Linked DNA regions of Homo sapiens: region 1 is linked to region 2. A link means that fine-mapping ties the variant in region 2 to the expression of a gene that starts in the linked region. Tissue or cell type: whole blood. Region 2 holds a variant in brackets; the other region holds the start of a gene. All regions are shown on one strand. Distances are between the middles of the regions.

Region 1 (7,565 bases), 140 kb after region 2:
TTCAGGTCTTATGTTTAAGTCTTTAATCCATATTGAGTTGATTTTTTTTTTTTTTTTTTGAGACGGAGTCTCGCTCTGTCGACCAGGCTGGAGTGCAGTGGTGTGATCTCAGATCACTACAACCTCCACCTCCCGGGTTCAAGCAATTCTTGTGCCTCAGCCTCCCAAGTAGCTGGGATTACAGGCATGTGCCACTATACCCAGCTAATTTTTGTATTTTTAGTAGAGACGGGGTTTCACCATGTTGGCCAGGATGGTCTCGATCTCCTGACCTCGTGATCCGCCCGCCTCGGCCTCCCAAAGTGCTGGGATTACAAGCGTGAGCCACTGTGCCCAGCCTTGAGTTGATTTTTATATAATTCCGCACAATTTTTAAATGATAAGAATTAAACTAATTCTATTTTAGAAAAGAATTAAGAAATTTTAAATTAATACAATCACTTAATAAATGCTTATTAAATACCTATTATGTGCCAAGATTTGTGCTAGGCACTGAACTTTGATGTAAGTATATTCTTCTAATTTTATTGATGAAGATGTGGTAACTTTAAGCATTTCTCTGGAGGATCTCAAGTCACACAGTGGCACAGCAAGTATTTAAACACTCATTTCTTTGATCCAAAGCTGAGCTCATTGCATTTACTATAATAATTTGGATTACAGATGAATACTTGATTTTACTAAACGAATTACTATATGAGCCCTTTACATAATGGGCTCCCATAGGACTTTACACTTTATTTTTCTTACAAGATTCAGTAATAAATCTATCATGAAAGCCATTTTACCACCGTGCCTTGTGCAGGGTAGAGCTCATTACATGTTGATGAATGAAAGTAGTTCAAGTAGACTTGTTGTTACACATGGCTAGATTAAAGTTCTCTGTTTTAATTTACTCTTTAAGCTTTACATGGCCTATGTGTAAATCCAGGAAAGTAATTCATCTTAGAATTATTGTGAGAAATAAATGAGATAATGCTTGCATGGGCTGGGCGTGTTGGCTCTCTCCTGTAATCCCAGCAGTTTGGGAGGCCAACGAAGGTGGATCACTTGAAGTCAAGCATTCCAGACGAGCCTGGTCAACATGGTGAAATCCCGTCTCTGACAAAAATACAAACATTAGCTGGGCATGGTGGTACACACCTGAAATCCCAGCTATTTGGGTGGCTGAGGCATGAGAATCACTTGAACACTGCAACATTTGAGGTTGCAGTGAGCTGAGATTGTGCCACTGCACTCCAGTCTGGGCAACAGAACAAGACTCTGTCTCGAAAAGAAAAAAAAAAAAGATAAGGCATGTATGGCACCAGGCACTCAATAAAAACTTTTTTTGTTTTTTTTTTTTAAGAAATAATATGTTTAGGTGTATTTAGGCTATAAATTGAGATTTTAGATACACATTGGTGGGTAGATCTAAGAATTATTGAGAAGGGAGAATCATTAGGACCACTGGGGACAAGTAAGAGAAAGGAGTCATTGATAGATATAGATTATAGGCTTGACGTTTGCTGAGTAATGTGTGCTTAATGTGGCTGGGCATGGTGGTTCAAGACTATAATCTCAGCACTTTGGGAGGTTAAGGTGGGAGAATTGCTTGAGCCCAGGAGTTTGAGACCAGTCTGAGCAACATAGCAAGACTCCATCTCTACAAAAAATAAAAATTAGCCAGGCATGGTGGTGCATTCTTGTAGTCCCAACTACTCAGGAGGCTGAGGTGAGAGGATCACCTGAGCCCAGGAGGTAGAGGCTGCATTGAGCCATGTTTGCACCACTGCACTCCAGCCTGGGTGACAGAGCAAGTCCCTGTCTCAAAACAAAACAAAACAAAACAAAACAAAAAAACATAAATGAGGAAGTTAGAAAGGAATATTGGATTGCAGATATAAGGCATCTAGAAAGGGAAGATGATCTGGGGAGAAGAGATATAGGATTTAGAGAGGGAAAGATAGAAATCGTGTATTAGTTAGATGATAGATGGATGAATTAATATATGAACAAATTATTTCAAATTATATTTATTGAGTGCTAGGTACTATGAATTTATTGCCCAAAGGTAGCAGATCCATGAGGGTGGCTATAAATATTTCTATATAAATTTATATGGAATTTCTATAAAAGAGAAGTTTTGGGGTAGCAACCAAGTTGTAAAGGTGTGTGAAGAGGGGTCTGGGTGGGGAAGGGTATTTGTTTTCATTCTGTAATCCCTTAGCACTCTAGATCAGATTGAGAAAATGTCAAATAGGAGGGAGGGGCACTGATGAGATGAGATTACAGATGGAATTAATCCCCATCAGGATAACTCTCAACTCTGCCACTGCACTCAAACACCTATAACCAAACAATAATAAATTAATGAGATACTCATTTTATCAGATCTATAGCATGATAGGAGGGAGGCAGGAGCATTTAATTCTCCATGAAGAGAATGTGTGTGGTTGGAGAGTAGATGAGGGAAAGATTTCACAAAAAGGTGTGATTTTAGTTGATTTTTTTTTTTTAAGATGGAGTCTTGCTCTGTTGCCCAGGCTGCGATGCAGTGGCACAATCTTGGCTTGAATCCGCCTCCTGGGTTCAAGCGATTCTCCTGCCTCAGCCTCCTGAGTAGCTGGGATTACAGGCATGCACCACCACGCCTGGCTAATTTTTGTATTTTTAGTAGAGAAGGGGTTTCACCATATTAGCCAGGCTGGTCTTGAACTGACCTCAGGTGATCCACTTGCCTCAGCCTTGCAAAGTGTTGGGATTATAGGTGTGAGCCACCTGACTCTTATTTATTACTCTTGAAGAAGGTAATTAATATTCTAAATACATGCTCTGAATAAAAGTCTTCAAAGACACAGAGAAGCTGGAGATCTTAGCAGACTGTTCAGAATCTGATGAAGTGGGAGTAATCTGGAGATGAAGGACAAGCAGTGGCCCAATCATGATAGGCTTGCATGTTATGTCAAAAGTTTTGAAATCCATCCTGTTACTGATGGGAATGGCTGGAGAACTTTAGGCACAGGAATGACAATGATAAAATCTTACATAACATTTTTGAGCTACTTATAAGGCTGAGGCAGGAGGATCATTTGAGCCCAAGAAGTTCAGGGCTGCAGTAAGTCACAATCACACCACTGCACTCCAACCCAGGTGACAGAGCAAGGCCTTGTCTTTAAAAATAATAAAATTTAAAACATAACATTTTTGGAAGATCAAAGAACCATACATATGAAAGAAATACAAGCAACATGACCACCGTAGTCCTTTCATTACAAATGGGAAATTATGAAAAAAATAAAGCAAAATCCCTGTTCTCACAGAATTTATGTTCTAATGAATGGGTAGAGGCAGGCGTGGTGGCTCAAGTCTGTAATCCCAGCACTTTGGGAGGCCGAGGCGGGCTGATCACGAGGTCAGGAGATCAAGACCATCTTGGCCAACATGGTGAAACCTGTCTATACTAAAATACAAAAAATTAGCTGGGCGTGGTGGCGCATGCCTGTAATCCCAGCTACTCGGGAGGCTGAGGCAGGGGAATCGCTTGAACCCAGGAGGCGGAGGATGCAGTGAGCTGAGATCAGGTCAGTGCACTCCAGCCTGGGTGATAGAGCGAGACTCCGTCTCAAAAAAAAAAAAAAAAAAAAAAAAAAAAAAAATATATATATATATATATATATGTATATGTATATATGTATGTGTGTGTGTGTATATATATAAATATATGTAAATAAATATAAATATATATAAATACATATAAATAAATAAATATATATATAAGCATACTATGTATGTACTGCGTCGTTTGGCAGTCATTTTGCTAAGTGCAGATGACACAAAGAAGAGCAAAAAGCAACATCCCACTTCTAGAGCTGAGAGTTGCAGCACATGTGAGTGAGGGCTCAAATCCTGGGCCAGGAACCCATGATGGAGAGTTCCATTGCTGCTGGGCTTCATGTGTCTGATTTAGAGTTAATGCAATCCTGTCTGTTGTGGAGAGTGCACGAAGGCATATGAAAAGGGGAGAAGCAGACCGGGCGCGGTGGCTCACGCCTGTAATCCCAGCACTTTGGGTGTCCGAGGCGGGTGGATCACGAGGTCAGGGGTTCGAGACCAGCACGGCCAAGATGGTGAAACCCCGTCTCTACTAAAAGTACAAAAATTAGCCAGGTGTGGTGGCGGGCGCCTGTAATCCCAGCTGCTCGGGAGGCTGAGTCAGAGACTCGCTTGAACCCGGGAGGCAGAGGTTGCAGTGAGCCGAGATCGCACCACTGCACTCCAGCCTGGGCGAAAGAACGAGGCTCCGTCTTAAAAAAAAAAAAAGGCGGGGGAGGAGCAGCATATTCACAGTAAGGAGAAATGACTGTCATTGTGTTTACTGACGTTTCTCTAGGGAAGAAGCCCTGGCCAAATCCCACCCTTCAACCCCCCAGGGGCCTAACAGAAGAATGCACATCCTCGGGAGCTACCTAAATCTACTGAATTACAATGCATATGGGCGGGGCCCAGGAATCTGCAGTTTAATAACGAATATCCCCAGGCCATTGTTATGTACGCTTAAGACCTGAGAACCATTGGCCTCTCCAACCTTTTCTCACTTCACCTATTAAAAGCCCTATTTTATAGAGGAGGAAATTGAGGCATAGGTTAATTAACTTGCTAAAGTCACATGGAACCTAGACCAGCTGGAATCTAGACCAGCTTGAGATACAGTTCTTTTCTTTTTCTTTCTTTCTTTTTTTTTTTTTTTGAGAGACGGAGTCTTACTCTTACTCTGTCGCTCAGGCTGGAGTGCAGTGGCGTGATCTCGGCCCACTGCAACCTCCGCTTCCCGGGTTTAAGCGATTCTCCTGCCTCAGCTTCCCAAGTGGCTGGGACTACAGGCGTGCGCCACCACACCCAACTAATTTTTGTATTTTTGTTTTTTTTAAGTAGAGACGGGGTTTCACCATGTGTTGGCCAGGCTGGTCTCGAACTCCTGACCTCAGACTCGGCCTCCCAAAGTGCTTGGATTACAAGGTGTGAGTCACCGCGCCCGGCCAGCTCTTAGTCTTAAACCCAACAGTACGTTATCTCCTTTTGCTAACTGATTTGTTGCTAAAACTTCAACAAGCACTGGACTTGGAGTTTGAACACTTAGTCTGAGGGCCCACTATGTTCAGTCTAGTGAGTCTGAGCAATTAACTCACATTTTGAATTTCAAGTCTCTCGCCTTAGGCAAAACACCACCACCTGATGCTCACCAGAGGGGCGTGACGCGGCAGCTGGGCAGGGAAGGGATGGGAAGGGATGGGAAGGGAGGCGATCGATAACTCCGGTGTGCCGCTGACTGTTGGATTGGCTCGAACTTCTCCCGCCAGGCCTAACCTACTCCCGCGCACTCCTGGGCCCGCCCAGCCGCCATCTTGGTCTAGGAGGGAGCGCGCCGCACGCGTGAGTAAACAGCCGGAGCTGGGAAAGTCGAGCTCTGGCAGCGTCTGGGTGCTGAGGGGCAGAGGCGGAGAGAACCCTGTCCTGATCTTCCTAGGTGGGATAAATATCGGGGTGACAGTGGTAGGCCGCGGGGAACCCTCAGTCTGCCCACCCTCCGCCCCCTCGCGGCGAGATGCCTCGTTCCCCGGGCTTCTCCCGCCCTCCGCCGATCTCCTCCCTCTGTTGAAAGCTGCCCGGGAAAGTGGTGGCGGGAGCGGGCCCAGGCCCGAATGTGGCGTGGGCTCAGGTGTCTGGTGTCGGGCGCCGGAGGAGGTTCGCGCTGGGGTTTGGTGATTCGGAGGCCTGGGGTGCAGACGCGGCGTGGCTGTGAGGCCCGGGCGGGCGTGCGGGTGTGAGGGCCGGACTCACACTGGGCCGCCGCGGGGCTGTTTCCATCGGTCACTGGATTTTCTCCTCTTCCGGTTCGGGCCTCAGGGTGGCCGACATGACGGCCAGGGGTCAGAGCCCCCTCGCGCCGCTGTTGGAGACTTTGGAAGACCCTTCTGCCTCCCATGGAGGGCAGACTGACGCTTACCTGACTCTGACCAGGTGAGGTCCGCCACGGGGCGTAGCGGAGAGTGGGGCGCTCTATAGTGGGGAGAAAGAAGGTGGTTGGGAGGGGCGCGTAGAATGAATGTGAGTTCTAGAAGTCTAGCAAATGTGAGGACGCCCGAGTCGCGGACGCCTTGGGGGGCGGGGGAGATGTATTCTAGGTGACGTTCCCGGGTACTGCTGCTGCTGCGCTTGAGGTGTGTGTTTGGAACGAGGGAGCATGCACGTGTGTTTTGCAAGCGAGGGATTTTTAAAAGTTTCGGTTGGAAGTAGTTGTTGGAGGAGGGGTCTTCAGTGTAAACCTCCGATGTGTTGGGAAAATGTGGCTACCCAGAGTTTTTTTAACAGAGCAATACACTGATTTTTATTAATTGCAAAATGCTTCAAAGTAATTTTCATAGAAATGTACTAAAGTTTTGTAAAACCCTTTGGAAAGGCTTAGCAAATCGTTAGTAACTAGGAATAGGGATCCCTGTTCTGTCTTTTTGGAGTCAGGTTGTCACAACTTGCATGTACTCGATGTAAAAACTTATTCTGAGGGTTTTTCTACTTTCATTTCTGATATATATTGCATTATATATTCTGTATACCCTTAAGGACCTTACCTACTGGGTCAATTCATTTGCAGGAGTTAGAAAGTAATTTTTAAAAAGATTGTACATGTATTTTTGAGAGTATTTTTTTTTTTCCTGTCAACTACTTAAACTTGTGTTCTTCCTGCTTTTTAAGTCGTATGACTGGAGAAGAAGGAAAAGAAGTAATTACAGAAATTGAGAAAAAACTTCCTCGGCTGTACAAAGTTTTAAAGGTATGTATCTGTTTGTTAAACAGTTTTTCACTTTTGGTAGTTTGGTTTTTTTTTTTGGTTTTGTTTTTTTGTTTTGAGGTGTAGTTTTGCTCTTGTTGCCCAGGCGAGAGTGCAATGGCTCAGGCTCGGGCTCGGCTCACTGAAACCTCCGCCTCTCGGGTTCAAGCGATTCTCTTGCCTCAGCCTCCTGAATAGCTGGGATTATAGGCATCCGCCACCGCCCCGGCTAATTTTGTATTTTTAGTAGAGAAGGGGTTTCTCCATGTTGGTCAGGCTGGTCTCGAACTCCCGACCTCAGGTGATCCGCCTGCCTCAGCCTCCCAAAGTGTTGGGATTACAGGAGTGAGCCACTGTGTCCAGCCACTTTTGGTGGTTTTTAAAAGTTTTGCCAGTTGACTCAAAAGCTTTGAATCTAAAATAACAGCAATAATACTGATTATAATACTCTTTATTGTTACTTAAAGCTTCTCAGGTACTTTCTTAATTACCTTACACGCTTTATCACTTAACTCTCCATGGTTCCATGAGATTATTTCTTAATGATCACTTTGCAGGTGAAGAAATTAATTTAATTTGCCTAAAGTTGCCTAGGGGCACTTGAATCTGAGTTTGTGCTCTTGAAAGCAGAGATCAGAGATTAATCTGTTTTCTTTCCTTTTGGGAATCTACATCTAAGTAAGTGCTTCTAAAATTACAATTGTCTTTGGTCTAATCTAGGTAGCATTAATTTCTTTTTCCTCATTCACCCTCAGTT
Region 2 (11,332 bases):
TAAGTCTCTGAAATTTAAAAAGATTTAAAATTTAAAAATTTTAAATTTAAAAATTTTTCACATCAGCATCACATAGCCTATTCTGATTGATACAGAAATTGGTATTCTGAAATGGAGTACTGCTATGGCCAAAAAAAAAACCACACAATCCAAACACTACTTGAAATACATGACTTTGGCTTAGAGGCCAAGTGGCAGATAAGAAGAAAATAGTTATCAGAGATTAGAAGGATGGTGACCCACATTATGCAGTATAAAAGTACTTTGTAAAACTGTCATGTGATAGCTTGGAAAGCAAATAATGTACCTAATTAGCTTGTGGTTTTGGGGTTGTTATTTTTTAAGTATGGGAAGCAGAAAGTTATTAGCATTTTTCTGTTATCATTGAGTGCATTTAACAAATAATATAAGAAAGAAATGACTTTAGAAAAGAACTGGCCAGTTTGAAAGCAGGAATGAAAGGGAATAGAGAAAGTCCAGAAATATGAACTTCCAACTTATGGGGCTGGAAGAAACATTTCTCATTCCCAAATAATAAACAATAAAACCAAGAAGCCTGTTGAGTAACAAAGATTGATTAGAACTCCGGTTTATCGCGGGGATCAAATCAAGGTGTAAATCTCTAAATAGATTAGGATCCCTCAGAGCGAAAACACCAATTAAGGTTGTGGAATACAATAAACCCTTTCAACTGGACAAAATAGCTCAAGGAAATGAAAGCAAAAGTGTGGCCTGATAGACCCAAAGTATCTATAATTAAATGAGGAGAGTGAAAGAAGCATGAGGCTAAGAAAGCAGAGAACAGTAGCAACTCTAAAAAGTAAGTCTAGAAAAGAACTGTGGATGTGTAAGCTTACCAGAATAAAATAGACAAGATGCCTATTGAGTTTTTCCATTTTACCAGCTAAATAACCACCACTCCAGACTAAAGAGACCATGACTGTTCAAAACTTTATAACTTTGGTCACAAACATTGACCATAGGAAGTGCACTAGGGAAGCTTTTCAGATTCCAAGAGATTTCAAATGCCCATTCTAGATATGGCCAAGAAGAATAATGGAAAAAGAAGAGTGTTCAACTGGGAGGCGGAGGTTGCAGTGAGCTGAGATCGCACCACTGCACTCCAGTGTGGGCGATAGAGTGAGAATCCGTGTCAAAAAAAAAAAGAAGAAGAAGAATGTTCAAGAGCCATAAGGACAATGAGCAAGAGAATTCTTAGAGAATGGAATCAGGGCCTAATCCAAATTCCACACCCTGGGAGTATGGAGCACACATCTACTGAATGGGATTTCAGAATTGCTTTGGCCCAGTGACGGCTATGTGTCTCCCATTCTTTCCCTTTCCAAGTGTAAGAGTTTATTGCACTCATCTTATTCCAGTTCCGCTACTCTATATTGGATGTGTGAGGGTCTCTGCATAAAGAGGAGTAACATTCAGACCTGATGTAGAGCACTTTGAATTCATGCACTTTGAGTTTAATATCATGATTGGATAGAATTTCTTGTTTTTCTCCCTTAAGGATGAGATGACTACGAGTGTATTTTGTGTGAGAAGACAAATGAACTAAATATTGGTGGTAAGACAGGTAGGCTATGCTGGTTATTATTCTGGCTCAGCGATATCTGTTTCTCCTAACTTTTGATAAGACAGAATTTCCTAGTCCCCATATATATATTTGGATTTAAAATAGAGATATATAAGCATTTATATATATACATGTATTTAGATTTTAAATAGAGATGGGGTCTCACTGTGTTGGCCAGGCTGGTCTCAAACTCCTGGCCTCAAGTGATCCTCCTATTTTGGCCTCCCAAAGTGCTGGGATTACATGGATGAGCCACCATGCCCAGCCCAAGTCCCTTCTATTTGAATAGGGCCATGTGACTATTTCTGACCAATGAGATGTGAGAAGAAATGACAAGAATCACTTCTGGGTCACAGCATTTAATTGCTGATACAAGACTTTCCAGATTTCACATTTCCTCCCCCTCCTCCACCCTCCATGATTCTTGTCTCAAGAATGGAGTCTCTAAGTGATGAGGATAAACAGAGTCCCCCTGCCAACCTGTGCTGGATAATCAGCATGGGTAAGAATTGTTTAGGCCCATGAGGTTTGGCAGGTTGTTTGTTACTGTGGCATTACCTAGCCTGTGCTGCCTGATAAATCAACAAACAGCAAGAGGAACTTGTAATTCCACATATGTATCTATATGACTTATCATATTGGCAATGTCTGGAGTTAGCTCATCTTGGACATACATATGAAGGCCCCTTTCTTAATATTCAATATATTAAACAGTCAATATGTACTTTTGATAAGTTTTCAAAGACAGCTGTCCTTCTGTAAGATCCCTAAAACTCTAGGAATAAGCAGGAGAGCCAATACTTGTTTTCTGACATCCAGCCAGACTGCTCTTGGGTGAGGGTGAAAGGAATCCAAAAGAAAAGTATAATTTTCTAAGCTAGAAATATTTATAAAAAAACACATAGGAAAATTTAGAATTGAATTATCAATTTTACTGCCTGAAGAGGACCCCCCAAAATACAAAAGTGACTATTTCAACTTTGTCCTAAATAAATATTAACATAAAATTCTTCCTGATAGGCAATCTGCCACAGACTATCAACAATACCTTCTGTGCCAGTGAGACTGGCAAAATGGAAATTAAAAAGCTACTTTAAAGTTTTCTTCTTAATATTTTTGAGAGCTTTAAATAGTCATTCTATTTTAAAAAGAATAATAGACACGAGAGATTTGTTTAAATGGTAAATATGAAGATTTATCATAAACTGTAGTTTTTAGGCACCATCTCTCATTCTTTAAAGAAAGGTGAAAATGAGAACTCCTGAGAGTAATGTAACTTTAAAAACTAAAAATAAAATATCAGAAGCAAAACTCGAGCTTTTCCTTTTGTTTGTTTTAGATGCCAGGCAGCATTCAATAGGTTTAGAACCTTTTCTAAAAGCCTTTCATTCTGCCAGCATTTTAATATGAATTTAATTCTGCTGCCAGTTCTTCATGAAACCTACCATGTCAGAATAGAAGTTGTCCAAAGGTTTTTTTTCTATTTTTCTTTTTTTTTTTTTTTTTTTGAGACAGAGTCTCACTGCAACACCCAGGCTGGAGTGCAATGGCACGATCTCAGCTCACTGCAACCTCCGCCTCCCAGGTTCAAGCAATTCTGCCTCAGCCTCCCAAGTAGCTGGGATTACAGGCGCCCACCACCATGCCCGGCTAATTTTTGTATTTTTAGTAGAGATAGGGTTTCACCATGTTGGCCAGGCTGGTTTCGAACTCCTGACCTCAAGTGATCCGCCCACCTCAGCCTCCCAAAGTGCTGGTGGCGTGAGCCACCGCAACCGGCCTAAAGGTTCTTTACCAAAAAGACTTTTACCTTCTCTGAATAGGAATCTTTAATTTTATCATTAAAGTTTCTGCAAGTTAAAAACAGTGAGATGCTAGTAAACTGGGTCTCTTTCCAACTAAACTTAAACCCTTGGAGGGCAGGTACTGTGTTTTTACCTCCAGTCATTCCCCAGCATCGAGCATGATAAGTGATGAGTCACTAACTTTGTATTTACCTCTCTCTCCATGCCAAGGTTTTCAAACTCTTATACCAATTGTTTCCATTGTAAGTGCAAAAGAAAGAAAAAGCTAGTCCTTTACGAGCTCTATTTGGAGAGGGGATGGCTTGGAAGGAATCAAGGGACACTTGGCACTTGGGTGAACAGAAATTCAAGAAAAAGATCACACTCAGCTCTGAGAACCTTTAGAGTTGTGGAGTGAAATGCTATGCACAGTGGTAAATGGTTGCTCTTGAAGTCCTTCGAATCTTCAGTTGAGTTTACAGGAATCACCAACTGCTGAATGTAACTGCCTTTGTTTTGGAAAATGTTAAGAGTCAAGTCTGCATATTGGTGGGCATGGGGCCACAACTGAATTGGCCCACAAGACCATAACAGGATGAGCCAGCACTGGCAGGGGACATCTGAATCACTTAAGGTTGATTTCAGCAGACATGGCACCAATACACATAATCTATAAACAAAACTTTTTATTACAGTGCACTTATTGTAGTTGAAAACATGCAGCACCATTTGAAACAAAGAAGATTCAGAAACATGGAAATAAGTTTTGTATCTAAACATAAATGGATGGTAAAAATTAAAGTTTTCATTTTTTAAGGAAAAGCATATTCATTTTTGTCAAACATTTACAGTAATCCGGGTTAAAAAGCTATAGTTTTCATGATTCTGTTAAGTCTATTCTTCAAAGTATGCTATGTGAGGTTGACCTAGAGAACACTTGACCACATCTACTTCTCCACCTCCATTCTTTGCCCGTTGAAAGTGAATGTTAATTAAATCCTCCACAATTTCTTCATCCATTTGAATGCCTTCCATTCCTGTCAGAAGCACTGTCCTCTTAGATGTTCCTGAAAATATCTAAGAAGGAAAAAATGATAAATAGAAAGATTTCTAAGAGCTTTGAATTACAAAACTTTACATTCATAATCTCTGCTTAATATTTTTTATTTTATCTTAGAAGAGACAAGAAATCTTAGGAAGATTTTCCAAGCAAGAGAATATCCAAGTCAGATCTGAGTTTTAGAAAGAGAACTCTGGTGGCATTATGGAACACAGAGGAAAGGAGGGATGCTCTGGGAACAGAAAGACCAGGTAAAGAGGTAGTCAGAAGTGGAGCTGGCAAGATTTAGTGACCAAATGAATGTTGGAGGTGAAGCAAACTGAAGAGTTAAGTATGAGTTCTAGCTTTTAAGTTGGTGGAGTAGGTAGATGGTGGTACCATTGGATACCTGAGAAGGAAGAGGAAAAGGGAGCAGGTCTGGGGTAAAGATAATGAGTTCAGAGAAAGTAGGCAGGAATTCTTTCTCATGCTCACTGACAGTAGACATATGAGAGAAATGCAACTATGTCTCCATGTACAAAAATAAAAATTGTGCCATTATCTGAGTAATTTCAGTTTTAAAAATTGTATAATAAAGTACAGTTTTGCATTAAAATGCTCCTTCAAAAGACAAACTCATTTTGCACCAAGCAAAAATGAAGTAAAGAAACCATTTTGCTATCCCTCATTGATAAGATGCATAAGTAACAGACTCACAACAACTTTATTTTTTGTGGGGTGGGTTTGGGCAGTGAGTTCTGAAAATGAGAGAACAGAGATGACTTTACCTGATACTTTTTCAAGTGTATTTCTGTGTATGGAGAAACAGTAACTCTATGGCAGGTTTGATTTATATAAAGAGGGTATTCTTTCTTTTTCAAAATCTTGTCAGCCACTAAAAGCAAAACAAAAACAATACTTGTCTTTTTTATATCATAAGCATTTTTAACCAAAGTTAAAACTTCCTTCAAAGAGAACACTATTACAGTAAATATTGAGTTAAAAGATTAATTTTTAAGAAATTCTAAAGCCCACTTTGAAGACTTCACAGTACATAATTTTGAAAACTACAAGACCAAACAATAATGAGGTTTAAAGCCTTCATTCCATCTTGAATTATTCACTGCAGTCAATCAATGCACAAAGGGTTGCAATGTCCTCAGACAGATCTACTTTGAGCTATAAAAAATACCATAGTCTTTTGCAGAAAGTAACCCACTCATCTAACAAGACTGGACTGTTTCCCAGTTTCTCAAAAGCTGTAAGTGAAAACTATGATTAGAATACTATATACATTTTTTTCAATATATTCAATAAACTGAAGTAATGATGTTAACCAAAGCAGGGAGGGGATTGAATGTCATCTAGAAAAACTGAAAGGAAATAAAAATTCATCAGTTTTCTACAACACAAAGAATAGTCTATTTTTTAGCAGTATTTTTTTCTCCTAGAGTGGTGAAAGGATGTGTGTCAAGACTGTAACATTTAACAAAAACAGTTCTTGGGAATATACAACCATGTTTTTTATGACTCTTCTCACTCATCTACCTTGGATCAGCAATATGGTACAATGATTAAGAGTGTAGGCCCTCATTGGCGAGAATATGGAGAAATTGAAACCCTGAGGCAATGCTGATAGAAATGTAAAATGGTACAGCCACTGTAGAAAACAGTATGACAGTTCCCCAAAATATTAAAATAGAACATGATATGATCCAGCAATTCAACTTCTGGGTATATACCCGAAACAACTGAAAGCAGGGACTCGGACAGATACTTGCTCGTTAATGCTCAGAGCAGTATTTTTCACAATAGGCAAAAGGTGGAAGCAACCCAAGCATCCACCAACAGATGAACAGATCAACAAAATGGATATATAAAATACACACACACACAGAGAATATTATTCAGCCTTTAAAAAGGATGAAATTCTGATACATACCACAACATGGATGGACCCTGATAACATTATGCTAACCAAAATAAGACAGACAGGAAAAGGACAAATATTGTATAATTCCACTTGAATGAGGTACCTAGAATAGGCAAATTCATAGAGACAGAAAGTAGAATGATGGTTACCAGGGGCTGGAAGAAGAGGTAATGGAGAATTATTGTTAAATGGGTACAGAGTTTCAGTTTGGGGTGATTAAAAAGTTCTAGA[G/GA]ATGGATAGTGGTGATGGTTGTACAACATTGTGAATGTACTTAGTACCCTTGAATTGTACATTTAAAAATTGTTAAAATGGTAAATTTTATGTTATATATATTTTATCACAGTTAAAAAAAAAAAAAAGAGTACAGGTCCTGAGTCAAATAGACCAGCTTCAGTCCTAGCTCTGCTACTTATGAGCTATGTGGCCTTGGATATGTTGCTTGACTTCTTAAAGCCTCAGTTTCTTTTTCTGTAAAATAAGCATAATTACAGTACCTACCCTGTAGATTATTGTGATGAGTCAGTAAGACACAGTTTATGAAGTATCTGGCATATTTATCTCCAGAATACCTTCACATCCTTCAGTAGTTACCTGCTGGATAACCTATAACCTGCAGAAGTATTTTTCCCATCTGGCTAGATGTAACCTCTAGGAGAACATCCCCAGATGGCCCAAGGACACAGGTTCCAAAGCTAGTATTATCTCTCACAGTAGAGTTATAAATTGCATTCTAGTTTATTTTATTTTATTTATTTTATTTCGGTTTTTTTGAGACCGAGTCTCACTCTGTCACCCAGGCTGGAGTGCAGTGATGCAATCTCAGCTCCCTGCAACCTCCACCCCCCAGGTTCAAGCAATTCTCCTGCCTCAGCCTCCCAAGTAGTTGGGACTATAGGCGTGAGCCAGCACATCCGCTAATTTTTGTATTTTTGGTGGAGAAGGGGTCTCGCGATGTTGGCCAGGCTGGTCTTGAACTCCTGGCCTCAAGTGATCCACCCGCCTCCGCCTCCCAAAGTGCTGGGATTATAGGCATGAGCCACTGCGCCTGGCCAGATTTTTTAAAATCCAAGATATAGACAAACTAACACCAAACAGGCTAAATGAATATATGAATTTGGCAAATTAAAATCTGGATGCTTGACTATGGAAGTTTCCACCAAGTTATTGTTCATTTCCAAGACAACATATTACTGTAGCCCTCAAGACCCCTTCCTTTTATAGCTCTCCCTGACACATCCCACCAGGATGTCCTAAACATCATCCAAAAGCTCAGGTCAAAAATGCATATTGGGCCAGGAGCGGCGGCTCATGCTTGTAATCCCAGCACTTTGGGAAGCCAAGGCGGGCGTATCACTTGAAGTCAGGAGTTCGAGACCAACCTGACCAACATGGTGAAACCCCGTCTCTACCAAAAATACAAAAATTAGTCAGGCATGGTGGCATGCACTTGTAATTCCAGCTACTCGGGAGGCTGAGGTGGGAGAATTGCTTGAACCCGGGAAGCGGAGGTTGCAGTGAGCTGAGATAGTGCCACTGCACTCCAGCCCGGGCGACAGAGCAAGACTCTGTCTCACAAAAAAAAAAAAAAAAAAAAAAAAAAAAAGGATATTGACATGTTTTAATGTGCCCAGAGAAAAGCCTGGAAAGACACCCAAATAACCATAACTAACTAAATAGTAGGAGAAAGGGAAGTTTGAGGAAATGTCTCTTTTTGTTTTTTTTTGAGACGGAGTCTCACTCTGTCGCCCAAGCTGGAGTGCAGTGGCGTAGTCTCGGCTCACTGCAACCTCCACCTCCTGGGTTCAAGCTATTCTCCTGCCTGAGCCCCCCGAGTAGCTGGGATTACAGGCATGCGCCACCACACCTGGCTAATTTTTTTGTATTTTTAGTAGAGACGGGGTTTCACCATGTTAGTCAGGCTGGTCTCGAACTCCTCACCTCATGATCTGCCTGCCTCGGCCTCCCAAAGTGCTGGGATTACAGGCATGAGCCACCGGGCCCGGCCGAAATGTCTCATTTTTACTAAATGTTTGCTCTTCTGTATTATTTCACCTTCCTTAAAAAAGCATGTATTACTTTGTCATGAAAAAATCTAATCCATCAATTTTTTTTTTTAATTTTGTTTTTTGAGACAGGGTCTCACTCTGTCTCCCAGGCTGTAGTGCAGTGGTGCAATCACAGGTCACTGCAGCCTCAACCTCCTGGCCTCAAGTAATCCTCCCACCTCAGCCTCCTGAGTAGCTGGGACCACAGGCACGCACCACTATGCCTGGTGATCTCAGCTCACTGCAACCTCCACCTCCTGGGTTCAAGTGATTCTCCCTGCCTCAGCCTCCCAAGTAGCTGGGATTACAGGCACTTGCCACCATGCCTGGCTAATTTTTGTATTTTTAGTAGAGATGGGGTTTCGCCATGTTGGACAGGCTGGTCTTGAACTCCTGACCTCAAGTGATCCGCCTGCCTCCGCCTCCCAAAGTGCTGGGATTACAGGGGTGAGCCACTGCACCCTGCCTATTTGTAGCAATATTATCTTTCCTAGTACTGTCCCTGGAAATAATTTCCTACACTCTACTATTTTATAAGGTTTTTTAAAATCCCCAATTATCATGCTAATACATTCCAAATAAAAGAAGTAGAATAGGAATACTTTCAGAAACAACAGAACATGACTGAAATGGCAGAGTGTCTGTTAACCTTCTACACCCTTGAGTACCTCCAATCTCCACAAACGTGATGACTGCACTCCCGGACTGTCTGTCATAGTCCACGCGGTCCACCTCTCCGCCTCCATTTCGGGACTTTGAAAAGCTCAGCTCTAGTTTGTCTCTCATTTGATCTTCACGCAATGTGTCAGGAATTTCAGTAACATTGATTTTCATTTTAGAAACTTCTACATAAACCTGGAAAATGATTTGATGTTCAGAAATATGGATGAGAGAAGTGCTTGTGATGAACAGAAATCCAAAAAATTTTAATCATCCTGTTACCTGGAATCTGACTCCTGAATTTAATGGAACTGGCTTGGCCGTAACCTCCAGATTTACATCTTTTATCTGTACATGATGTTTACTCATGCTTACCACATTTTGAGCAACTGAAAAATAATTCAGGAAGGAAGTATTAATTTCCAATATTTTAAGAATTGTTATGCTTTTGGTTTAAGAACAAATTATCCTGAATATTTTTAATTTTCTTTAATATTAAAGGGTCTAATTTTAAAAATTTGGCGGGCGGTGATTCCAAGTGATAATGGTCTTGCTACCAAAGTAGAATATATAATTTGGGGGGTCAGGGGGAAGGAGGACCAGATCTCATTCTGTCACTGAAGCTGGAATGCAGTGATGTGATCATAGCTCACTGTAACCTCAAACTCCTGGGCTCAAGAGATCCTCCCACCTCAGCTTCCAGAATAGCTATGATTACAGGTGCATGCCACCACGCCTAGCTAATTTTTTTAACTTTTTGTAGAGACGAGCTCTCACTTTGTTACCCAGGCTGCTCTGGAACTCCTGGACTCAAGCAATCCTCCTGCATCGGACTCCCAGACAAAGTTCTGGTATTATCAGGATGAGCCACTGCTCTTGGTCCCAAAGTAGAATATATTAATGTCAAAGTATATCAGCAAAATCACAATGTAGAAGTTCTCAAGTTCTAGATTCTTCTCATAAGATGAATCTTTTCTCTTATCTCTTAAGAGATAAGCCTAACAATCTTCCAGAATTCATATATTACTTCAGCTCAGCCACATACCCTTCCTTCCACTATTAACAATTACCAGAGGATTCCCCTAGTACATTAATGCACAGCCAGAAAGTGTCCCATGTTCAGTAAGCTGGGAAAACTTTCATGGCTAAGTGTCATTTGTACAATTAGTCTTGATTTTACTTAACCTTATCATTTGTTACTCCTTAATATGTTACAAGCACTAGAGCAATATATATTCATTTGCTCTGTCTTCTCAAGGATTACATGTTAAAGACTACATAGGCTGGAACATCAAAGAGTGAGTCTTTTTTTTGGTCATACTTAATGACGAATTCCACTTTTGCAAAAATGCTCTTGAAATCATTCTTTAAAAAGTTGATAGTCCTGCTATATTGATCACAAAGCTGTCAAGTCTAATTTACCTGTGCAAATGGGAGAGGTTTAGTAAAATGCTAAAAATCACTAGCACTCCAAAAGGCAACTCTATGTCAATTAAAAATGTGAGTGGGCATTTATTTTTAATTGTGTGGCATGAGTTTATAATACTGCAGTTGTTGATATTTGGGGCTGCTATTCCAATGTATCATGAAAATAAGTGACATTCACTCTCTGTCTTATAAAACTTCACATGTGTTTATGACAACCAGACCAGATGGCACCACACCACAGCTGGAGGAAGAGAAAAAAGGGCCAGAAGGCAGGGCCTTGGCCATGTGGGAATTCAACTCACTGTACCAAAATATGACTCTATAACTTGGATGATGGTTTTTTGTTTTTTTGTGTTTTTGTGTTTTTTTGCTAATGACAACAGACAATAACAGAAAATATCAATGAGTAATACTCAGATGATCCTCTTTCCCTCCCACTCTTCCACAAACCCCCAACATCTGGTGATCTGATACAGCTGAGAGGGACCGCTTGTGTCTCAATTGTTGTGACTCTGACAATCAAGAGCCAACTCCTACTTAATTGTGTTTCAAACCTACTGCTGTCCCAGGAGATTGGGAGCTCAGAGCCACGTCAAGCGTAGAAGCAATGATGTAGGTGCTTTTAGAGAATTCCATTTCCAACATTCCCAGGAAATTGCTGTGCAGAAATCCTGCCTCCCAAATCCTCATTTATATCTATCTTTTAGTTATATCCCGATTACCAGTCGCCAGTATGAGTCCTGGACTCCTCTTCTACCTGTAGCAGTAGCTCCAGGGTGAAGGAAAACACACTGGCGATGCATGTCTTCTACGCACAGATACTGTCCTGCTGGAATGCCTTTCAACATTTATTTTCAG

What was found. PIP is the estimated chance that this variant, and not a neighbour inherited with it, causes the effect.
Region 1: RIF1 starts here. The variant in region 2 is fine-mapped to the expression of RIF1 in whole blood (TOPMed, PIP 0.95).

Annotation. Positions count from the first base shown.
Region 1 is chr2:151,404,528-151,412,092 of GRCh38, forward strand. It overlaps RIF1 (replication timing regulatory factor 1), which reads left to right and starts at 5,375. Exons shown (of 36, transcript NM_018151.5): 1 at 5,375-5,506; 2 at 5,887-6,000; 3 at 6,733-6,811. The coding sequence starts at 5,897. RefSeq lists enhancers at 4,286-4,984, 4,985-5,683, 5,288-5,447 and a silencer at 4,288-4,582.
Region 2 is chr2:151,266,430-151,277,761 of GRCh38, forward strand. It overlaps NMI (N-myc and STAT interactor), which reads right to left. Exons shown (of 8, transcript NM_004688.3): 5 at 9,329-9,435; 6 at 9,055-9,241; 7 at 5,197-5,303; 8 at 4,041-4,446. The coding sequence ends at 4,264. Among named protein-coding and RNA genes, the nearest start is that of RBM43, 10 kb to the left of the region's middle. The variant G/GA (reference allele first, on the strand shown) is at 6,573.